5 separate regions of the Homo sapiens genome follow, and regions 1, 2, 3 and 4 are each reported to be linked to region 5. The links are microRNA targets in miRTarBase. Many come from high-throughput screens and were not tested one by one. Region 5 holds a microRNA gene; each other region holds the end of a gene's coding sequence. Distances are between the middles of the regions.

Region 1 (4,792 bases), not on the chromosome of region 5:
ATGCCTGTAGTCCCAGCTACTTAGGAGGAGGCTGAGGTGGTAGGATCACTTAGGTCCAGGAGTTCAAGACTGCAGTAAGCTATGATGGCACCGCTGCACTCCAGCCCGGGTGACAGAGTGACCCCCATCTCTAAAAAGAAAAAGATTTACCCTTTACTCTCTTTACTCCCCTAGGCTATGGGTACACAACGCCACTGACTGATGCGGGCAAGGCCTTCTCCATCGCCTTTGCGCTCCTGGGCGTGCCGACCACCATGCTGCTGCTGACCGCCTCAGCCCAGCGCCTGTCACTGCTGCTGACTCACGTGCCCCTGTCTTGGCTGAGCATGCGTTGGGGCTGGGACCCCCGGCGGGCGGCCTGCTGGCACTTGGTGGCCCTGTTGGGGGTCGTAGTGACCGTCTGCTTTCTGGTGCCGGCTGTGATCTTTGCCCACCTCGAGGAGGCCTGGAGCTTCTTGGATGCCTTCTACTTCTGCTTTATCTCTCTGTCCACCATCGGCCTGGGCGACTACGTGCCCGGGGAGGCCCCTGGCCAGCCCTACCGGGCCCTCTACAAGGTGCTGGTCACAGGTGAGCTGGGTGGCTAGGGCAGGGCTTTGAGGAGGACCTAGCCCTGTCCCTGGGGGAGTTAAAGGCTCACAGTCCCACTCTGGGACTTCCAAAAGGGATCCAACCCCACCCTGCAGGGTCCAGTAGAACTGCGGCCCCGCCTGGAAAATCTGAGCCCCAGGATGACCAACGCCCCTTCTCCGCCTTTACAGTCTACCTCTTCCTGGGCCTGGTGGCCATGGTGCTGGTGCTGCAGACCTTCCGCCACGTGTCCGACCTCCACGGCCTCACGGAGCTCATCCTGCTGCCCCCTCCGTGCCCTGCCAGTTTCAATGCGGATGAGGACGATCGGGTGGACATCCTGGGCCCCCAGCCGGAGTCGCACCAGCAACTCTCTGCCAGCTCCCACACCGACTACGCTTCCATCCCCAGGTAGCTGGGGCAGCCTCTGCCAGGCTTGGGTGTGCCTGGCCTGGGACTGAGGGGTCCAGGCGACCAGAGCTGGCTGTACAGGAATGTCCACGAGCACAGCAGGTGATCTTGAGGCCTTGCCGTCCACCGTCTCTCCTTTGTTTCCCAGCATCTGGCTGGGATGTGAAGGGCAGCACTCCCTGTCCCCATGTCCCGGGCTCCACTGGGCACCAACATAACCTTGTTCTCTGTCCTTTCTCTCATCCTCTTTACACTGTGTCTCTCTGGCTCTCTGGCATTCTCGCTGCCTCTGTCTTTCCCTCTTGCTGTCTCTGTTTCTCATTCTCTTTCATGTTCCGTCTGTGTCTCTCAATTAACCACTCGTCAACTGCTGATTCTACTGGGCTGTGGGCTCAGACCTCATTTCAGGCACCAGATTGGTCGCTACACCCTGGACAAGTGACTGCCCGTCTCTGAGCCTTGATTTCCTCAGCTGCCAAATGGGAAGAATAGAAGAATTTGCCCCTAAACCCCTCCTGTGTGCTGGCCCTGTGCTAGACAGTGCTGGAGACATAGTTGGGGGTGGAGAACTGCCCTTATGGAGCTTGCAGTCCAGTGAGGTGGACAGACCTGTCCCCAGACAGTGATGGCCCAAAATGGTCAGGACTTTAATGGAGGAGGTGAGGTGTTGAAAGCACAGGCAGAGTGGTCAGGGCTGAAGTCGGAGAAGCATAGGGACTAGGCCCAATCCAGCCTGGAAAGTCAGGGAGGACTTCCTAGAGGAAGGGACATCGAACTAAGACCTGAACTATGAGAAATAGGCAGGAAGAAGTTGTACCTGACTCATTTTTCTCAGGTGTCTCCAGGGAGCAGGACCCATGGAGGGACCCCTGGTGTAGGCCTGGGCGATAGACTCTTCCTCAGCAGCCTGGCAGGCAGGAAACAGACATAGGACCCCAGCCCAGATCTGAATGGCATGGGAGGTGCTGCCCTTAACCATGACACCATTGTAAGAGCTGTCCACATTTGTATGTTGTGCCCTGGAATCAGCCTGGTTGAGCTCAAATCCCAACTTAGCCACGTCTGGCCTGTGTCCTTGGGCAGTCACACTACCTCTCTGATTTTGTTTCCTTATCTGTAAAATGGTGATCATCATAATACAACTTCAAAAGGATTTCAGGCTGAGTGTGGTGGCTCACGCCTATACACCCAGCACTTTGGAAGGCTGAGGAAGGAGGATCGCTTGAGGCCAGGAGTTTGAGACTAGCCTAGGCAACACAGTGAGGCCTTATCTCAACAACAACCACAAAATCTAAAAATTAGCTGGGTGTGGTGGTGCATGCCTGTGATCCTGGCTACTTCAGAGGCTGAGGTGGAAGGATCACTTGAGGCCAGGAGTTTGAGGCTGCAGTGAGTTATGATGGCACTGCTGCACTCCAGCCTGCGGGACAGAGTGAGACCCTGTCTGAAAGAAAGAGAGAAAGAAAGAAAGAAAGAGAGAGAAAGAAAGAAAGAAAGAAAGGGAAAGATGGAAGGAAGGAAGGAAAAAGAAAGAGAAAGAGAGAGAGAGAGAAAGAAAAAGAAAGAAAAGTAAGAAAGAAAAAAGAAAAAGAAAGAAAAGTAAGAAAGAAAAAAAGAAAAAGAAAGAAAGTAAGTCCTGGCTAACACGGTGAAACCCTGTCTCTACTAAAAATACAAAAAATTAGCCAGGCGAGGTGGCAGGCGCCTGTAGTCCCAGCTACTCGGGAGGCTGAGGCAGGAGAATGGCGTGAACCCCGGTGGGGGCGGAGCCTGCAATGAGCCGAGATCGCGCCACTGCATCCAACCTGGGTGACAGCAAGACTCCGTCTCAAAAAAAAAAAAGAAAGAAAGAAAAGAAAAGAAGGAAAGAAGCGGGGCACAGTGGCTCAGTCCTGTAATCCCAGCACCTTGGGAAGGCCAAGGTGGGAAGATCACTTGAGGCTAGGAGTTTGAGACAAGCCTGGCCAACATAGCAAGACCCCATCTCTACAAAAATAAAAATTTTAAAAAGGGCTGGGGCATTTGAGCTGGGTCCCAACAGTAGACAAGTAGAAAAGGCATGGAGAGGGCATACCAGGTGGGAGGAGCTGTGTGCAAAGGCCTGGAGATGGAAAAGCATGCTGGCCACCAGCTTCTGACAAGCAGTTTAGTATGAACGGTATGCAGGGAAAGAGGGAAGGAGGGCAGAGGGGTGCGCACGAGCACCCGTTAGTGTCCTTAAATGACCAGCATGGGAACCTGGTCTCTTTCCTGAGGGCCCTAGAGAGCCATGGAAGGGTTTAGAGTAGGAGTGGGTCATGGTTAGGTTTGGGTTTTAGGATGATCCCCCTAGTTGCTCTGGAGAGGTGGAGCAGAGCGGGTACTGAGGCTGGGTGCCTGTGGGAGGCTGAGGCAGGAATGAAGAGGGAGACGATGGGCCTGGGCTGAGCCATGGAAGGGAGGAGGGGTGAGTGCGGGCACACTCAGGAGCCAAGTGGACAGGCCATAGCCCCCACAGACTGGAGGGACGCGGCTAGGGAATGTCCCACAGAGTGGCCAGTTATCCCTGAGAGAAAGAGCAGGTTTTAGCGGAGACGCTGAGGCTGCTTTAGAATATGGTGGGTGTGTGGGGCAAAAGGGACACCCAGGGGTGTATCAAGAGGTCATAGGGGGCAGGCCAGGTGGCTCACGCCTGTAATCCCAGCACTTTGTGAGGCCGAGGCAGGTGGATCACCTGAGGTCAGGAGTTCAAGACCAGCCTGGCCAACATGGTGAAACCCCGTCTCTACTAAAAATACAAAAATTAGCTGGGTGTGGTGGCACATGCCTGTAGTCCCAGCTACTTGGGAGGCTGAGACAGAATTGCTTGAACCTGGGAGGTGGCGGCTGCAGTGGGCCGAGATCACACCACTGTACTCCAGCCTGGGCGAAACAGAGACTCTGTCTCAAAAAAAAAAAAAAAGTCATAGGGGCTGGGCATAGTGGCTCTCACCTATAATCCTAGCAAATCGTAGTACTTTGGGAGGCCGAGGCAGGAGGATTGCCTGAGCCCAGGGGTTCAAGACCAGCCTCAGCAACATAAAATACAAAAAATACAAAAATTAGCTGGGTTTGGTGGTGTGCACCTGTGGTCCCAGCTACTCAGGAGGCTGAAGTGGGAGGATCACTTGAGCCTGGGAGGTCAAGGCTGCAGTGAGCTGTGATTGCATCACTGTACTCCAGCTTGGGTGACAGAGCAAGACCCTGTCTCAAAAAAAAAAAAAGAAAAGAAAAAGAAAAAGAAAAAGAAAATATGTATATTGGATATACTATGTGCCAGGCACGATTCCAAGCCCCTGATACATTCTCTACATTTTACAGATGGGGGAAGGAGGTCCAGAGATGTTAAATACTTGCCCAAGGTCACACAGAAAGTGGAACACTGGGATTTGAACAAGGTTTTGGTTGGGCATCTTTTCCTATGGGAGCTCAGAAATATCTGTTGTCTAGCCCTTTCTCAGCCTCCCAACCTTCTCGGTTCCTTACCTATGTCACAGCTGACTTTGAGCTAAAGTCATCTCGGGGCAGCTAGGTGCCTATGTGAGCTGGCGTTCATTTCTCACTGTTTCTCCTTCCAAATACCTCCAGGAAGAAAAGCAAGTCCTTTTTGGTCCAAGACATTAAAAAAGCCAGGCTCAGCGGCTCATGCCTGTAATCCCAACACTTGGGGAGGCTGAGGCAGGAGGATCGCTTGAGCCCGGGAGCTGGAGACCAGCCTGGACATGTTAACATAGCAAGACCCCTCTACAGAAAATGTTAAAAATGAGCTGGGTGTGGTGGCGCACACCTGTAG
Region 2 (4,792 bases), not on the chromosome of region 5:
CCCAGGAGTGCCGTGCCTGGGGTTCTGGATAGAGCTTGAGCCCCCCACCCCCCCGGGACTGGTTTGTTCACCCCAGGTGTTCCCTGGGTGCTGGCCCCCGGGCCTCTCAGCTTGCTGGTGCCCCCTGTGGCTGCTGGCTGGGCAGATGGTGCTCAGAGCAGGAGGTCCAGGTGGAACCCTCCAGCCCACCAGGCTGGGGCTGCCCAGGAGAGCTCCGTGCTCGACCCAGCTGAGCACCATCGGCGGTCTCCTTGGGGGTGCTTGCAGGAGCCATCGGGGAAGGAGTTTCATAGGGTCTGAACCCAGGACTTAAAGGGGGGGCGAGAGGCTCTGAACTGTGCAGCCCCTCCCCCGCATCACCTAGTGGGGCCTGTGGACCCCACTGGACAGCTGCAAGGCTGAGCCACACCCCAGCAGTGACCTGCTCAGGCCCGATAGTTAGCGCGGCATGCAAAGACCTGGTGTGGGTGTCTCTGGGCCTGCAGTGGCCTCCGTGTCCCTCCTGGCCCCATGGCTCTGAGGACGTGGGTGATTCTGCCGTGATGAGGCGGCGGATGTGCATAGGCGGCAGGTGGACGCGGGTGAGTCCCACCACTCACATCTCTCTCCTCTCCACAGGTGGTCTGGAGAAAGCTGGGAGATGCAGCCAGCTCCAAGCCCTCCATACGGCAGCACCTGTCTGGGAACCAGTTCAAGGGGCCTTTGTAGGGCCACTCTTCTGTGGACGTGGACTGGCCCTGCTGGGGGTCCCCAGGGGGAGTTTCAGGCCCCAGACACGGGCAGGACCTCCAGCCCAGCCCCTGTCTTCTTCCTCTGTGGTGAACTGTACATAGGACGCTGCCCGCCCTGGCCCAGCTGCCATGGGTCCGATGCACTGGCCCAAGCCGCCATCTCCCGCCTCATACACCAGCAACCTGGGAAGACGAGACGCTGCGACTGTTCCTGCAGCAGAGCGGCCCGGACGCCTCATTCCCCCTCTGGGCCCTGGGCTCCATGAGCAAGAGGCTGCAGGCTGCTTCTGAGATCCAGCCTGGGAACTGTCCAGGCTCCTCTGTCCTGCCTGGGATGGAGGGGCCACTCATCAAACCCTCTACTCCCCGGCTGCCACCCACACTGGACAGAGACCACCACTACCTGGGTCTTGACGCAGGTGGCACCACTTCTTGCCCAAATGCCGTGGCCTGGCCCCAGGCCCCCCAAGCACTGGGTCCCCGGCATGTGGACAAGGCCACTCACCACATCTGTGGCTGGCTGGAGGCTGCCCTGGGCCCTTCCTGTGACCCTCAGCCTTGGAGGTCAGGGTGCCCTCACACCTGGGGATCTGTGCTCAGCCACCCGATGCCCGCTGCTCCTTGCTTTTGGAGGTCATCCCCCTCCCCCCCAGTCTCTGCAATGTCCCCCTGCCACCCTGTCCAGGCTATGCCCTTCTTGGGCTCCTCCTGCCCCATGCCTGAGGCACGTCCCTTTTCGTGGTTTACATGACAGGCCAGTAACAGGAAGGGCCTGGGGAGAGTTTCTGGGCTGAGCCACATGTGATTTTCCTGATGGGCAGCACTGGGCCACAGCTGGGGCTCTGGTTGGCTGTGACCTCCCCCAGGGCCTGGCTGCATCTTGGGTCCCTGTGGACAGAGCTGTGTAGGCTGCAGATGAGAGTTCTGTTCTTTTTGGGAAGGAGCGTGTCTGGCCAGGTTCTGCCTTTAGTTTGTGGTGTGACCTTTAGCAGTTCACTCAGCCTGTCTGGGCTCTTGGTGGAAACAGGTCTCTGAGGTTCCTTTTCGGCCATGCTTATGGCTCCAGGTCATCCAGCGCCACAGGGCAGGGGTCCTCACTGAGGGGGCGTGAGCCAACAGCCGACGGCTGAGGGCGGGCCGGGTGGAGCTGAGTTCTGCTGCCTTGCAGTCGCTGCGGGTGGAGAGTTGCCTCCCCACTCTGAGCCCGTGTCCTCAGTAGTAAAATGGGCAGCATAAGGCCCTCCTCACAGGATTCTGGCATCAAGTGAGATCTTCAGTGTAAATGACCATGTATAAACTGTAAAGTGCAATAGAAAACTGTGTGTGTGAGGAAAGTAAGGCCTAGAGGGGGTGATGTGTGGCACATGACAGGGATTTTGATCCCACAGCTGCAGCACGGGGACAGGCCGCTTCCCCACATCCGCTCATGCCACTGTAAGCAGCCCTAGCTCTTGGGTCCAGGACCTCACCAGGTCCTCGTCAGACTCCTGTGCTCTTCCAGGGGCTGCTCAGCCCCACCTGAAGAGCCCAGAGAGGCTGTCTTCCTACCCAGCAGGTCTCATGCAGGCCCAGGGCTGGGGATGCAGGCAAGAGGAGGGAGATGGCCGCCCTGTCCCTCTCCCTAGCTGGCGGCTCTATTCTGAGCAGTTCTTGCTGCCCGTTTGCTCTCAGGGGAAAGGCTCACGCCCCCCATCTTAGCCCCAGGGGGGTAAGTGGGTGCTGGTGATGGGATGGTGTGGCGCTCCTGCCGTGGGTGTTGCCAGGAGGCTCTTTGGGAAGGAGTGTCGCCCGGTCAGGTGGTGCGCTCCCGGTCACTAGGGGTGTACACGTGAAGTTGGGTGAACACCTGCTGCTCATGGTACCCAGTGATTCTTGCCCGAGTGGGCAGCTGAGCAGAGGCCCCTCTGGGTCTTGCAGTCCAAAGAACCGCAGAGTAGCCCAAGGGCTGTGGGTCCATTTTGAGTGGCAGCCAAGTCTGGGAGCCCGTGTGCATCATGTTTGGGTCAGGTTGGCGTGGCCACCACTGAAATAAGCAATAAGTACGGGCTCCTGGTACCTGCGGATCTCCTGCAAACAGGCCCAGAGAACAGCCTTGAAGCCACCTTTCCCCTCAAGGGGACTGACCCTGTCTTTAATGCTGCAGTGGCATCCAGGGATCAGTGGAACATTGCTTTGAGAACCCTCCTGCTGTTACGGAGGCAGCACAAAGCTGGTGACCCCTGAGCCAACACGGCACTGGGATGGCTTTCTAGGACAGAACCCTGTCGGCGACTGTCACATCTCAAACTAATAGCTGATTTTAAAAGCCAGCAGCAGCGACGCCATGTACCTGAGTACAGGTGGCAGTTGCAGAGCCGTGGGCTGTAGAAGGTCAGATGGGGCTTCCCACAGGGGAAATCTGGGCATGCTGTAGCTCAGGGTGACTCCCAGCTCCGTCACTAGCAGGGCGACCCCCTTCCTTCTGGAGCCTTAGCTCTGAAAGCCCCCAGTGGGGGTGCCCTTTCAGATGCCCCCTTTCCATTTCAAAGGCTCTGACTCTTGATCTTGAAGCCGGACGCGGCACTGGCACTCGGCTTCAGTTTCCACTGTGACAGATGGAGGTCTCCTTTCGCCCCAGCCCAGGTGGCCAAGCCCATCCTGGCCTCAGAACATGCTGAGCACATTTTGTAGGGTGGCACCTTTTTATCCAAGTTACTAGCTACACATCAGTGTTTAAAGAGAAAAAAGTGACCTTTCATTTTTTTTTTCTTGAAACTTGAGGAAACAAGATACATACTACTGATTTTTTTTTTTTCTTAAAACTAAATGCATGACTGCAGAGCGGTAGAGGTGTATATTTTTCATACTGTGGGGCAAAGTATTTGTGCTGCTTTTTGGAGATGGACTGGAACGTCTGGTTTCTGTCCCCGGGCCCGGCAGCTACGTCTATTTTCTGTAGAAGGTGCCACAGTGAGACCTGGAGCCACCCCTTCCTGCCCTGGCGCCGTTTAGAGCTGGGAGCCCGTGGACTCCCGGCCTGTTTCTACCTTCTATTCAACCACTCTGACGTGGGGAGACAAGAAGAAATAGAACTTTTTGATAGTGTGGTAAAAACATTGATTTGAACTATTTTAGTAAAAGGAGTAACAAACAAGATTGTGATAGTGTCTACTTTGAGCTAGATAAATAAAGGCCTCTTTGTGAGCCTCCTGGCTGGGTGCTCAGTGCTTGTTTCTGTCGTGGGTGGCAGGGTCAGCAGGCAGAGACAGGGCCAAGGCCCCTCAAGCACCGCAGATGGGGGCTCAGTCGGGGCCCCTTCCACAGACAGAGCCGTGGCCCCTCAAGGTGGACAGTGAGGCCGCTGCTCCTCCAGCTGCCTCTGTCTCATCACAGGCCAGAAGTGGAAAGGGTTTCAAATCCAAGCCCCCGGGTTCCTGTGTGCGTTCTACGCAGCAAGGCTTCAAAGTTTCAAACTGGTTTGGAACTCAACCAGGTCCTCCAAAGGAAACCAAGGCAGGCACAGGATGGGGGCAGGCTGGCTTGGCAGGCAGCTGTGCGGATCCACCCAGAGTGCCTTGGGAGGCAGTGGGGTTGGCTGTGGCTGCTGTGAGCTGCAGCCAGGCCTCTCCCGCGTCCCCAGGGTCTGGAAGGAGGGCCTCTGCACATTTTATAAGCCACAGACTGCGAAGGCCTGGAGCCCCACCTTCCACCCATAACAAAGAAAGGGATAGTTTCAGAACTGCTTTTATTTGGATAACTGACTGAAGGAGTCTCATTTGTAACCAAGATGGAATTCACAGTATGTTGTTACATTCACACTTAAAAAATATATCTCTATGTACAGGAATTTGCAAAGAGATGTAAACATACATTAATTTCCAAGTACATTTCTCCCCTTCTCCCTGGAGGAAAAAAAAAAAGCCATCCAATGAGGCAACCCCTTCAAAATAATTTTAATACAAAGGATGCAAACATCTATAAATGAAAAATGTGGTTCTTCTGCCCCTTCTGGGTGTCATGGGAGAGAATGTCACCGAATGAAAATGACAACAGCTTGGCTTCAGATGGAATTGGACTATTTA
Region 3 (4,792 bases), not on the chromosome of region 5:
CCAAAAACTTGTTTCAGAAAGATAGGAGATAGCTCTGTAGAAACACACAGGAACAGAGAAATGGTTGATGTCAGACCCAGACATAGAATGTTGGAGCAAAAGCTCCCATGTGAGACTTTCCAGACCTATTCAGGACCATATAGTATTTCACAAGTAGTGGAAAACCAGTTACCTCATTGCTTACCAGCTCATGATAGCAAACAGAGACTAGATTCTATTAGCTACTGTCAACTCACCAGAGACTGTTTCCCAGAAAAACCAGTACCCTTGAGCCTTAATCAGCAAGAAAATAACTCTGGCTCATACAGTGTAGAATCTGAAGTTTACAAGCACCTCTCTTCAGAAAACAATACTGCTGACCATCAAGCAGGTCATAAACGGAAACATCAGAAGAGAAAACGACACCTAGAAGAAGGCAAAGAAAGGCCAGAGAAAGAGCAGTCCAAGCATAAAAGGAAAAAGAGTTATGAAGATACAGATTTAGACAAAGACAAGAGCATCAGACAAAGGAAAAGAGAGGAGGATAGAGTCAAGGTCAGTTCAGGAAAGCTTAAGCATCGAAAAAAGAAAAAAAGCCATGATGTACCCTCCGAGAAAGAAGAACGTAAGCACAGGAAAGAGAAAAAGAAATCTGTTGAAGAAAGGACAGAAGAGGAAATGCTTTGGGATGAGTCTATTCTTGGATTTTGAATGTTTAGTTTTGTTTACCCAAGGTTGAATTGAAAAAAAAAAACAGTCAATATGGATTTAGAAAAAGGAACACCTGATGAAGAAAAGGAGAGGTAGATACAGTCAGTGTCACTTCAGGACACTTAGGTTTTTTTTGTATAAAAATTTAAATTGAATTAAAAGAAGGAAAAAAAAAGCCCAAACTTAACCTCTGAGAAAAGAACATAAGAACTCAAGGAGAACATAAGAGAAAAGGAAACCTGTTACAGAAAAGACAAGAATCTGTGTTTTGGAATGAGTCTATTCTTGGGTATTGAACTTTTAGTTTTGTTTGCCCAAGGATTAATTGAGGAAATCAGCTAAGAAAATGGACTTTAGACAAAAGCAAGAGGATCAGATGAAGAAAAGGAGAGGTAGATACAGTCAGTGTCACTTCAGGAAAGCTATTTAAAAAAACTTGAAATTTAATTGAAAGAAGAAACAACAACAAAAAAGCCTAAACCTAGCCTCTGAACAACACTAACATGAGAACACAAGAACTTAAGAGAAAAAGAAACCTACTCAAGAAAAGACAGAAGAGACAGTGATTTGGGATGAGTCTACTCTAGGATTTTCAACTTTTTAGTTTTGTTCCTTCAAAGTTGAAGGAAAAAAAGTTTGGTTTTATAAAATTCATGTTATTGTAATTTTTCTAGGTGGATGGCTACTTTAATCTCTAAAAAAGCCAAGTGAAGTAAAAGTATTCAGTATGCCTTTTCCTCAAGTTACTTTCCTTCATTTTCTTAAAAAAGAAAAAAAATTATTAAATGTTTCTCACATATCTCACATATAATGTAATTTCCCTAAATGAAGTTGTCTCTACTTCTGCTCATCAAATTGCTGTGATAGTGAATTATTTATTCATGGGAGATAATTTATTTTAAAGGACAGAATTACCAAGCGTTACAAAATCAGTTCTTTCCTTGGTTTTGTGTTAGTGTTGGTGGTATTTTATTGTTGTTTTTCTGTGTTTATGTGTCTCAGCTTTCTCCAAGGAATATGTATGAAATAACTTAAACTGATTTTTTCTTTGTTAAATCTAATTTGCAGTGTATTTTTGCATTTTCTAGTTCTGAAAGTGGAAAATGAAACAGTCTATAATAAACTTAGATGATATATAGTTTTAAAACGGTCTCAAAAAGTACTGATATAAGGTCAGTCTATATTCTGGAAATGTTTATATTAAAGTGTTTTAATTTCTACATATTGTTTTATGTAAATGATCATTTCCCATCCAAAATTATTATTTTGGGAGTTGGAGGGGCAATAATTAAACAGTTGGCACTTAATACCTCTGAGGAGATCACACTATGAAGTTGTAATAATTTTATATTTTCTATATCTTATCTCACAGAGGCTGATACTGAGTCTCAAACTCAGTTTAAGGTTAGGAAAATATGACCAATTAAATGGTTGAAACCGAAGAAGGAAGAATTGGTAAGTGGTAGAGGACCAGAGGGTGTTACCTTTGAATTGTTTGATTTTGACAAATTTTTTACGCTGGTGCTCCCTTTATTTATGAGCAGTACCACTAAGTATTTGAGGATCACAATGGGATAGTAGACAGTGTAATAATGGCCTGTGAATCTAAATTCCAGGATTCTGGTCTCAGTTGCACCATCAAGTTGCTCTGTGACCTTGTGAGAATACCATTAGAATCCAACTTGGAATCACTAGGAATATGAAAAGTAGGCTTTGTGTTCTCTTCATGTGTTAATCCTATCAAAAAACAAATGTATGCTCCACACAGTGGCTCATGCCTGTAATCCCAGCACTTTGGGTGGCTGGGGCAGGAGAATCACTTGAGTCCATGAGTTCAAGAACTGCCTGGGCAACATAGTGAGATCCTGTCTCTATTTTTTAAAGATAACAAAATAAATTTAGATGGTGACATATCTACATTTAGGCAAAGCATTTAATAGGTGACATGTCTGCATTTGGGCAAGGCATTTAATAGCTGTTCTTTGCAATTTAAATAAAATAGTAAATGTAAGCTGAAGCATAATATGATTGATTGGGTTTATACCTAGTTGAGTAAATAGTCCTAAATGGAATTAGATGCTTCCCAAATCCACTTTTCTTCCATGAGACTGTTGTTGTAAGATTATTTTATGCTACAATATCATCCCCCATTTTAAATACATTTGGTGTATTGGTGAAAGGAGAGGGGAAAGAAGAACTAGAGTAGAATACATAGACTGCGAATCACCAAGCACAAATTGGTCAGTTATCTTTTTTGAGCACACCAAGAACTGCAGCACCTTTTCACAAAGTGCAAGATAAGATCAATTGAATTGCCAGCATCTGTTAAATTGACGAATTCTTTCATAGAAGCTTGTATTTAAAGTTGGAGAGGACTCAAAACTATATATTATAAAAATATTCCCTAAGATACAAAATTACTCTCATCTTTTAAAAATAGATACAATGATTCATAAAAATTATCCACCCATATTTAATCTATAGTGGATAAGTCATGCAAACTTTAAAAACCAAAACCATTTAAATTGGTGATGTGTTGAGTAGACCAAAAAGGATGTAGTATTGATTACGGTCTTGGGACATGCACCAGTGACTTGCTCTAGAAAAGTGGTTTTCAAAAATTTTAAGACAATTTTTTGCCAAAAATAAATTTTACGTTAACCTCACCATAAAACAAATTTTACATTAACCTAAATACATAATGTTCTGGTTGAAGGTGGGGAAAGGGTCTGGAGCCCAACTTTGGCACATTTGTTATGCTCCCAACTTCTGCCTCTGAGCATTTAGAGGTAAGAGTATATGTAAGTCAAGATGTTTATGTGTAGGATCCCAAATTATCTCCACTTCTGGAATTAAGTGTTGAACTCACTAAGATGAAATTTAATGATATAAATAGTAAATCCTACATTTGGGTATTTCAATACAAAAACATATTTGAGGAAGCATAATTTAAGATATTATATGTGAAAACAGTGTTGAGGATTTTATTACGTGCTTGGTTTGAAAGACTAATATGCTCACCCAGACATGAAAATCACATATGGTCTAAGTCAAATATATAAGAGAATATTTGGAATAAGTTAAAAGTATCTAACTTCAGAGATAAATCCTGAACTGGGTAGAAGATACAGGGAGGCAAGTACTGGGCAAATCTGGAAAATAGTTTTCAAAAACTGGAGCTGTAGAAAAATAGAATTTACTGTCTTGTGTGCATGCATTGAACAAATAAGAGCTGACTGTCAGCATTGTGCCAGGAAGGAACCTGAAAAAAGAATGAACACACATTGTTTTTCAAAAAGCTCACAGTCCAACAGAGGAAATGGACCAATAAATAGACAGTTACAAAATAAGTTTTATAAAGGCTTCAATCAAAGTGATGAAGGACGCTGTGGGTAGCAAAGGTAGTGAGCTTAATGGGATGGGAAGAGGGCATTCAGAAAAGGCTTCCCGAAGGACATCTAAGCAGACCATTTTCTCTCAGTTCAAAGATTTATTTATTTGATATATATACATGGTTATCTAATAGGCGCTGCAAACTTAATATAGCCAAATAGAATGCTGCCTTCTGTCATTACCAATTGTTCATCTAGTTTCCCTTATTTCTGTAAAACCATCTAATTGCCTAAGCCAAAAACCATTTTTGAGCATCTCTTCTCTCCTACATTAGACCATAAGCAATTCCCCTTGATTATATCACCAAAATGTTTCTCTTAATGTTCAGTTCTCTTCATCTTTACTGTCATCACCCTACTCTGAGATATCATTATTTCTTGACCAAACTGGGAAAATAGGTTTGAGAGCAATTGAAACATTGGAAGAAGTGATCACAGGTTCTGAATTACAGATAAGAAAACTGCACAGAATCATCAAGAGATCAGAGAGAGCTGTGGTGAACTTGTCCCTTAAGGATTTCACAACTATCCACCATATGTTTTCTTCCAGAAGAAAAAATTCCACATACAGAAAGAAAACTGCTTATTTCAGAAATCAAATTGAACAGGGAAGAGAGATTGTGGGTAAGGGAAAAGGAAAGTTCAGATAGTAGCAGATGGAGGAAGAATCCAGAGAAATCAAATCCCAGAAAGTATGATAGCAAAATAAA
Region 4 (4,000 bases), 110 Mb from region 5:
AAAACACACCAAAATGCGAACTTTCACTTAGATACATGTAATGGAACAGCAAGAGTTATTTTATTTCCTGTTTTCCAATTTAAAGTAGAAAAAAGTGGGGCTGGGCTCAGTAGCTCACACCTATAATCCCAGCAGTTTGGGAGGCCAAGGTGGGCGGACCACTTCAGCCCAGGAGTTTGAGACCAGCCTGGGCAACATGGTGACACCCCGTCTCTACAAAAGATACAAAAATTTTCCAGGCATGATGGTGTGTACCTGTAATCCCAGCTACTTGGGAGGCTGAAGGTGGAGGATCACCTGAGCCCAGGAGACGGAGGTTGCAGTGAGCTCCGATTGCGCCACTGCACTCCACCCTGGGCGATAGAGTGAGACTCCATCTCAAAAAAAAAAAAAAAGAGCATTAAAAACTAGATGGCCCTTCTTTATTTCTGTTGTCACAGATTTCCCAGGAGTCACTATTGTTTCTGTGGAAGGGACCGCATTTCTGGTGATCCTCATGCCATTCGAATCTTCTCTACCGAGGTCTCTGGAAGCCTTAATAGACACCTGTGTCCCAGGCATACCCTCTACTCCCAACTTGCCCTTCTCCCCCAGGCAGGAGGCAGATTGGATGATATTTATTTCTTCTTTCCTTTTTCTCCTGTAGGCTGGCCGCACAGCTTTGTCCATCGCTCTGAAGTCACCCACCCATATGGAAATTGCTGGGCTTCTGAGAGCCCACGCGGAGCAGGGCAGGTCCCTGGGGCTGTAGGGGCTGCAGAAGAACTGGCCGTGGGGAACAAAAGCCTTCTTCTCTGGACTCCTCCCTCGCCCTTGAAGAGGGCAGAGGTCACAGGCCAGAGAGCCACCCTTCTAGAGAAGAAACTATGTCAAATATGCACATACATTCCTGTTGTATAATTCTGCTCATTAGGATGCTTTGTAGTTTTTGCCTTAGGCCAAGCCTGAAAACTACACGGGCTTCAGAGCAGGGTTCAAGGTGCAAGGTGAGGGGTACGTCGGTGTCATCCAAACATCCAAAACATCTTCAGCCTTGAATTCCTCATGACTCTACCCTCTGTAACATTGTGTAGCAAGCAGGCAGGCAGGAGCACATTAGCACATTAGAAAAGCAATACTTTTTACATGGAATTTTACAGTGCACTATCTTTCTGTTTTTTAAGCAAGTGTATACAAATATGTCCCATTGATATGCATGTCTATAGATGGGAGGGGATTTAAGCCAACCCCCTGGCAAGCATTCTGTAGGGGACCCTAGAAGAATCACCGTGCAGACTGGTGAAACTGAACAAGCACCATTTGGGAGCTTTGTTTCGATGGGGTTGACAGAGAAATCTTAAAATCTGACAGGGTAGAAGAAGCACTTTGGCATCAATGCCATATGTACAGTCTTGACTATTTCTGAGTCATCTAGTGGCTCCAATTTGCTCCAGGGAAATTGGAATTAATTAAGAAATTTATTATCTAGTAAGTTGCTATGTAATAAAGAAAAAAAAGAAATTCAATCCAATGACACACACCACATGTATTTGGGCAGAGTCAGATTCTCTCAGCTATTTTGAGTCTGTGGAAGAAACAAAAAAAAGCTTCCTCCTGAGGATGGGTTATTGTCATCAAGAAGCCACCTGCATAGCCGTATCCATTACCTCATGGTAATTCCCGGTGCTTTCCCCTCATATCCCCTAGAAGCAAATATCTGTTCTGAGGTTTTTTGGGACTTCTGGCTGCAATAGGAGCAAGGGACCCAGGCAGGGCAGAGCAATACCTTCCGAAGCTTCCATATTCCCTGGGGCCAGCACATGCAAGGTTTATATGGTCAGTAGCTCACGTGAAGTCATCTGAATCTTTCTTAAATCTGCTCTCTTAAAATCTCTTATGCAAAAAAAAAAAAAAAAAGCCCCTTATATAAAAAGAAGTAATGTCAAAGTTTGATGAGCTTTACATTGGAAACTCAAAAGCTTGCACTCTCATTTTGGCTCAGATGCCAATTTGCTGGGTGCCCCTGTGGTGAGTCATGAAACCTCCTTGGGCCGCAATTTCATCATCTCTAAAAACAGAAATTGTCATACAACCTACCTCCTGGGAGGTGCTGCACAAGAAGCAGCTGATGGAAGTTTCAAAATCCAATTTGTGGCCGAGCGCGGTGGTTCACGCCTGTAATCCCAGCACTTTGGGAGGCCGAGGCAGGTGGATCACCTGAGGTCGGGAGTTTGAGACCAGCCTGACATACATGGAGAAACCCCGTCTCTACCAAAAATACAAAAATTAGCTGGGGCGTGGTGGCAGGCGCCTGTAATTCCAGCTACTTGGGAGGCTGAGGCAGGAGACTCACTTGAACCCGGGAGGCGGAGGTTTCAGTGAGCCGAGATCGTGCCATTGCACTCCAGCCTGGGTAACGAGCAAAACTCTGTCTCAAAAAAAAAAAAAAAAAAAATCCAATTTGTAACCCATTAAGGCCATCTACAGCAATGGTACAGCAAACTTCTTTTGCCATTGTGATTCATAAGAGAGGCTCAGAGTCCCAGAACACAATGACATGTGTTGATGCAACTCAGAGGTGGAGAGAATGGAGCAAATAATGAGAAAAAAAATGCTTTAAATGAGTTTATTTTGACCTCAAAATACATTGTAAGAGCAACATCCTACGTTAATAAATGTTCTAGCCCGGTGCTTCGCGAACATTTATGTGCATACAAATCACCTGGGATCTTGTTAGAAGGCAGTAGGTCTGGGGTGGGGCCTGAGATTCTGCATTTCTAACCAGGTCCTGGGAGATGCTGATGCTATCGAGCCACAACCACACTTTGAGTAGCAAGCCTCTGGCCTATCCTTATTGTTTGTTATATTAAAATGCTGCCTCTCAGTCTTCTGTCTCAAAATTTCTTTGCATATCTTTGCTCTTGGTTCTTGGGAATTTGCAGTGCGGGTCTTATTTCCTATTGTCTCTGCAGACAGCAGTATGGGGTCTGTGTCCTGTGTTGCCTGTTTAGGATTTATTTCTGCATCTCATATTAGGTGGCAATTTTCATTGGGTCACTTTAAAAAAATGAAATCATATTAAAAACAACTTATTTACCAGGAAAAGCAAACTGGGTTTCCTAGAGCTTGAAGATTACTTATTCATCACTATCAAAAGACTGTCCATCCTTTCTGAGATTTTTAATAATTTTATTTTAATCTTGAGTTTTGGACATGAGCATATGATCTCATCCTTTATAACCATTTCTTTCCTTTGGAATGTCTGAGCTCAGAGTGTGGTGAGATGAACAAGCACAGCCTGCCTTCCTGTCACTGTCCCTCAGCTCTAAAATTCATTTAAAAATATCTATTGATTGGGGTGCTGAGGCGGGCAGATCACTTGAGGTCAGGAGTTAGAGACCAGCCTGGACAACATGATGAAACCCTGTCTTCACCAAAAATATTTTTAAAAACTAGCGAGGTGTGGTGGTGTGCGCCTGCAATCCCAGCTACTCAGGAGGCTGAGGCTGGAGAATTGCTTGAACCCGGGAGGCAGAGGTTGCGGTGAGCCAAGATCATGCCACTGCACTCCAGCCTAGGCAACAGAGCGAGACTCTGTCTCAAATGTATATGTATATATTTATAAACCGGCCAGGTGCCTGACACTGTTCCCAGCACTAGAGACATCACAGTGAGTCCAGTTCAGTCTCTTGCCTCATCATCCACTAGGGAAAACACATAGAAGGTCAGAAGGAAGCCCAGAGAGGTACCACTAAAGGGCACCAGAGCTGGCCTTAGAAAGTCAAGGGAGGCTTCCTGGAGAAAGGGCCAATGAACTTAAAGATTACTGGATGTTAGGCAGAAAAGGAAGCGGAATGAGAGGTGAGTGTGCCAGGCAGAAGAGTACTGCCATAACTGCCTAGTGAGTTCACCTTGCCGGTTGCCTAGACAGAGCCGATTTATCAATACTGGGGAACTGCGATAGAGAAAGAGTAATTTCATGCGGAGCTGGCTGTGCAGAAGAACAGAGTTTTATTATTAC
Region 5 (4,792 bases):
AATATGAGAGTTTTCAGGCTGCAGTGAGTATTAATTATGTTTTTCAGTTTGGAAATAAAACTTAGCCAGAAGAGATGCTTCCTCTCCAGCTCTGCTGAGGTGTTTTAGAGTCAGCTTCCTCTACTCTTGATAATTTCAAGACTTCATAGAAATGAAAATAAAGTCCTTCTTTCAAAAAGGCTAGGAACTTCTCCTGTAGGGTCTGCACAGAGAGTTTGTTGTTTGGGGTAATTATATGGAAAGAACGGTGGCTAACCAGACTCTTTGATTCCTTCTTTCCTTCCTTCCTCCCTCCAACTGCCTAGATTAGGCAGCAGTCTCACTCCAGCACGATATGTGGTGACATTCAGTCATGGGGAAATTTGCTGAAACATCCCTGGCAAGCTTCAGAGATTCATGGAATAGCAAAGACATACATACTAAAAATCTCCAATGGAAGACTCAGCTATGCTGTTGAACATAACTGATCTTCAGAAAGAAGTGAGAACAAGCCTATCATTGTTCTCAGTGTTTTGCATATATTATCTCAGTTCATTTTTATAACATCTCTATTAGGTGTGCTGTTATTTTCCCCATATTATATTTGAAGAACTGACACCTAGATGAGTTAAGTAACTTGCCAAAGATCTTGTGGTGGTGAGTGGAGTAGCAGGATTAGAACCCAGGTGATCTAACTCCATGATCTTTTTTAAACCACTACATAATACAATGTAAATGAAAACTTAACTAATGTGGGCAGCAATATAAGTTTTACCATATTTTATGATTTAACAGGAATAGGGAACAAACATAGCCTATGAAGAGCATTCGCTTTCTGTTGAGATAATCAAGATAGGCAGGCCAGTAAATAGGTTTAAATAATCTAGTTATGCCAACCAAATTTCTGTTAGAAGCTTGGTGTGAACAAATTTTCAAAAAATGGCTATTCATGAACAAATAGGAAATAGAATGGGAAAACAAGTCAGTGGAAATCTCCAGTGTGTATACCAGTGCTCAAAGGGCTCAACTGGAGATGTTGGGACAACATCTCCATGTTTAGTAACAATCATTGAGGAATAACTTAACACTCAATGATTCTTCCAGTGCTATCCACATTTCTGAACACATAGAAGTCAATGAATATTCATTAATTATATTATTGAGCAAAAGTCTATTACTCCTAGACATTGTTAAAGGCTTAGCCCAACTTCATGTGTAGAACAATGGTTCTGTGTGGTTTAACAGAAAGACCAGAAGCTTTGCATTTGAATAGGCATGTGCTAGGACCTGGTTATGACGTTTCTTTTCTATGTGATATTAAGTTACCAAGTCTCTCTGATTCTCTTACTCATCTATAAAATGACGATTATAATTCTAGTCTTATATAATCATTGTGATAGTTAAAAGAGACAATGTGAAGAGGTGACTTGAAAGTACCTAGCATAATACCTGGCACATAGGAGGTATCCTCTCTTGCGTTGATCCCTTTTCAGAAGAATCAGTCTCTGAGGAGGAAATTAACTATGGCTTTTAACTTTGATGGCAAAGACATAGATTGTTTAGCTACCCCTTTGCCATCAAAGTTAAAAGCCAGAGTTAATAACAACATTTCCTAAAAAGCACTTGGAACTTCCAGAATAAAACTCACCATACAGCTATTGGTATTTTAAAAATTTATTTCATTCCTGTGGTAGGCATTGCTGCACAACTCATTGTACAATGATACATTTTCAAATGTTTATCATTACCTGTGCAATACAAATGCTGCAAGACCATTTTTCTCTTTCAAGCAATGAAGAAAATATAATTTTCTTTTTTATTTAGCAGACATATTTTTAGGTGCAGAGTATGAGAGGGATGATCTATAGGTTTTCTACTTAAATAGACCTAGGTTCAAGTCCCAGATCTATCACTCTCTAGCTGCTTAACCTTGGGAAATTTAGTTAATCTCTTAATGCCTTGGTTTCTTCTTCTGTAGAATGGATATATAATGTTTATCTCACATAGTCAGTTCGATATAAATGTTTTGCATAAGTATTACATATAAACATGTTTGATCATCTATAGTTACTATTTTTTAATTATTTGAGTATGCCTAATTGGGAGGACAGGTATTTCATAAATGATACCAAAGGTATGACTTATGTGTGCTTATGTCGGTTAATCCCTATAACCATTCAGCTCTTTCTTGTACCCATATATTATTTAAAGAACAAAAAGCTAGCTTTTATTCAATGAACATTCAAAGAAGGCCCATCAAGAAGTTAGCATAACATTAAGTGCTAGGATTACAAAAAAATAAAATATAGCCTTATCCTGAAGAGTTTAGTGTAGGAGAGAGACGTACACAAATACTTTTTAAAAATGTGGTATTAAAGTGGTAGAGACCACTATAAAATTCTACAGAGGTGCAAAGGAAGCATGGGGACTGCTGAGTCAAATCTCATCATGAAAAATCTGTCTTCAGTATCTCCCCTTGACTTCTGGCCTTCTCAGATTTGATAGTAGGTCAGATAGAGAGTTCAAGAAAGAAGAGAGTTAGGAAGACACTCAGCGAGTAGGTAGGGGATAGATCTCTTGCTGAATTTGAGAAAGTAGATTGTCTTTCCCCAATTTAGAAGTCAGGAAACACTAAACTAGCCCTCAGTTGAAAAGAAAAAAGCCCCACACAACTTTCAGAATAGGCAGCGCCCTATTTTAGAGATAAGAAACATCAGACACCTAAAGCCTATAGGGAGCAAATAAAACCTAGAGGGTTCCTCTGGGCAATCCAGAGACTTGGTAATGACAGCTTTCTAGTATCCTGGCACATTTAAACCTTGGATTTCACCAGAAACACTGATAAATCCCCCCCCCACCACCATTGTTGATGAAAAATATAATGAGGAGGGTAACATTTATTGAGCTTCTACTCTAAACCAAACACCATACTAGGTGTTTTCACATGCATTATCTCATTTAATAATCTCAACAAGTTGTATGATAGGTTTTGATATATTTGGGATATTTGTCTCATCCAAATCTCATGTTGAAATGTAATCCCCAGTGTTGGAGGTGGGGCCAGGTAGGAGGTGTTTGGGTCATGAAGATGGATCCCTCATGCCTTGGTGTTGTCCTTAAAATAATGAGTGAGTTCTCATGAGAGCTGGTTGTTTAAAATTGTGTGGCACTTCACCCCACCTTTTACTCCCACTCTTGCCATGTGATGTGCTTTTTCCTGCTTCACTTTTAGCTATGAGTAAAAGCTCCCTAAGGCCTCCCCAGAAGCTGAGCAGATGCCAGTGCCATGCTTCTTTTACAGCGTACAGAACTATTAGTCAATTAAATCTCTTTGTTTTATAAATTAAGCAGTCTCAGGTATTTCTTTATAGCAATGCAAGAATGGCCTAACATAGACAATTGGTACTGATGAGTAGAGCGTTGCTCCTGAAATGCCTGACATGTGGAAGCATCTGATACTTGAAAATGTGGAATTGACTTTGGAACTGGGTAATGGGAAGAGGTTGGAAGAATTTGGAGGGCTCAGAAGACAAGATGATGAGGAAAAGTTTGGAACTTCTAAGAGCTGTTAAATCATTGTGACCAAAATGCTGATAGTGACAAGGACAGTGAGGCCAGAATGCTGAGATCTCAGATGGAAATAAGAAACTTATTGGGAGGTGGAGCAAAGATCACCCTTGTTATGCTTTAGCAAAGAGCTTAGTTGCATTGTATCCATGTCCTAGGGATCTCTGGAAGATTGAACTTAAGAGTGATGACTTAGCATATCTGGTGGAATAAATTTCTAAACAGCAAAACATGCAAGATGTGGCCTGGCTGCTTCTAACAGCTTAACCAGGATTTGGAAGCGAGAAATGACTTAAAGTTGGAAGTTATATTTAAAGGTGAAGCACAGCATAAAAGTTGAAAATTTGCAGCCTAGCCATGTGGCAAAGAAAGCTTTTTCAGAGTAAGAATTAAAGTAGATTGTGAAACAACCACTTGCTAGAGAGATTTGCATGACTAAAAGTGAGCCAGGTGCTAATAGCCAAGATGATGGGGAAAAGGTCTGGAAGGCATTTCAGAGATCTAAGAGACAGCCCCTCTCATCACAGACCCAGTAGTGTAGGAAAACTGGTTTCAGGGGACCAGGCCCAGGGCCCTGCTACCCTGTGTAGCCTCAGAGCACTGTTCTCCATATCCCACTCCAGCTCTAGCTGTGGCTCAAAGGGACCCAGGTACAGCTGAGGCATCTGCTCTGAAGGGCAGAAGTTGTAAGTCTGTTGGCTTCCACATGGTGTTAAGCCTGTGGGTTCACAGAGTGCAAGAGTAGTGGAGGCTGCCAAGCATCTGGATTTCAGAGAATGTATGGGCAATCCTGGGCACCCAAGCAGAAGCCTGTTGCAAAGGTGGAGCCCCCCACACTGAGATAACCTTTACTAGTGTGGAGGAGAAATGTGGGGTGAAGTCCCACACAGAGTCCCCACTGGGGGCACTGCCTAGTGGAGCTATCAGAAGGGGGTCAACTGCCTCCAGACCTGGGAATGGCAGACCCACCTGCAGTTTACAACCTCAGTATGGACTAGCCCAGGAGGGGAGCTGCCCAAGACCTTGGAAGTCCACACCTCAGTGTGCCCAAATGCGGGGCATGGAGTCAAGGATTATTTTGGAGCTTTAAGACTTAAGGACTGCCCTGCTGGCTGGGGTTCAAGCTTGTGAGGGACCTTTAACCCCTTTCCTTTGGCCTATTTCTCCCTTTTGGAATGGGAATGTTTACCCAATACCTGTATCCCCATTGTATCATGGAAATAAATAACTTGTTTTGATTTTATGG

The links. Region 5 holds the annotated microRNA hsa-miR-3119 (UGGCUUUUAACUUUGAUGGC, at 1,504-1,523, shown strand). A microRNA usually pairs through its seed, bases 2 to 8, with sites in the 3' UTR of a target mRNA and lowers its output. Matches are read on the target gene's strand: a 7mer-m8 pairs with bases 2 to 8, a 7mer-A1 pairs with bases 2 to 7 and ends in A, and an 8mer does both.
Region 1: the mRNA of KCNK6 is a reported target of hsa-miR-3119. Seed matches in the 3' UTR shown: 8mer at 4,624-4,631.
Region 2: miRTarBase lists CCDC85C as a target of hsa-miR-3119. Seed matches in the 3' UTR shown: 8mer at 3,033-3,040 and 8mer at 4,627-4,634.
Region 3: miRTarBase lists ZMAT1 as a target of hsa-miR-3119. Seed matches in the 3' UTR shown: 7mer-m8 at 862-868, 7mer-m8 at 1,160-1,166 and 8mer at 1,389-1,396.
Region 4: miRTarBase lists KANK4 as a target of hsa-miR-3119. Seed matches in the 3' UTR shown: 7mer-m8 at 781-787 and 7mer-m8 at 1,893-1,899.

The regions. Positions count from the first base shown.
Region 1 is chr19:38,326,419-38,331,210 of GRCh38, forward strand. KCNK6 (potassium two pore domain channel subfamily K member 6) reads left to right here. Exons shown (of 3, transcript NM_004823.3): 2 at 175-570; 3 at 762-4,792. The coding sequence ends at 985. Among named protein-coding and RNA genes, the nearest start is that of CATSPERG, 7.0 kb to the right of the region's middle.
Region 2 is chr14:99,511,162-99,515,953 of GRCh38, reverse strand. CCDC85C (coiled-coil domain containing 85C) reads left to right here. Exons shown (of 6, transcript NM_001144995.2): 6 at 619-4,792. The coding sequence ends at 708. It overlaps CCNK (cyclin K), which reads right to left. Exons shown (of 11, transcript NM_001099402.2): 11 at 3,514-4,792. Among named protein-coding and RNA genes, the nearest start is that of CCNK, 32 kb to the right of the region's middle. RefSeq lists enhancers at 2,648-3,648, 3,649-4,148, 4,149-4,650.
Region 3 is chrX:101,879,408-101,884,199 of GRCh38, reverse strand. ZMAT1 (zinc finger matrin-type 1) reads left to right here. Exons shown (of 6, transcript NM_001394560.1): 6 at 1-1,910. The coding sequence ends at 690. Among named protein-coding and RNA genes, the nearest start is that of ZMAT1, 50 kb to the left of the region's middle.
Region 4 is chr1:62,235,028-62,239,027 of GRCh38, reverse strand. It overlaps KANK4 (KN motif and ankyrin repeat domains 4), which reads left to right. Exons shown (of 10, transcript NM_181712.5): 10 at 647-2,863. The coding sequence ends at 751. Among named protein-coding and RNA genes, the nearest start is that of L1TD1, 42 kb to the right of the region's middle.
Region 5 is chr1:170,149,883-170,154,674 of GRCh38, forward strand. It overlaps MIR3119-2 (microRNA 3119-2), which reads left to right and starts at 1,496; the gene lies at 1,496-1,580. The region is part of intron 1 of NTMT2 (N-terminal Xaa-Pro-Lys N-methyltransferase 2); the gene reads left to right. It overlaps MIR3119-1 (microRNA 3119-1), which reads right to left and starts at 1,580; the gene lies at 1,496-1,580.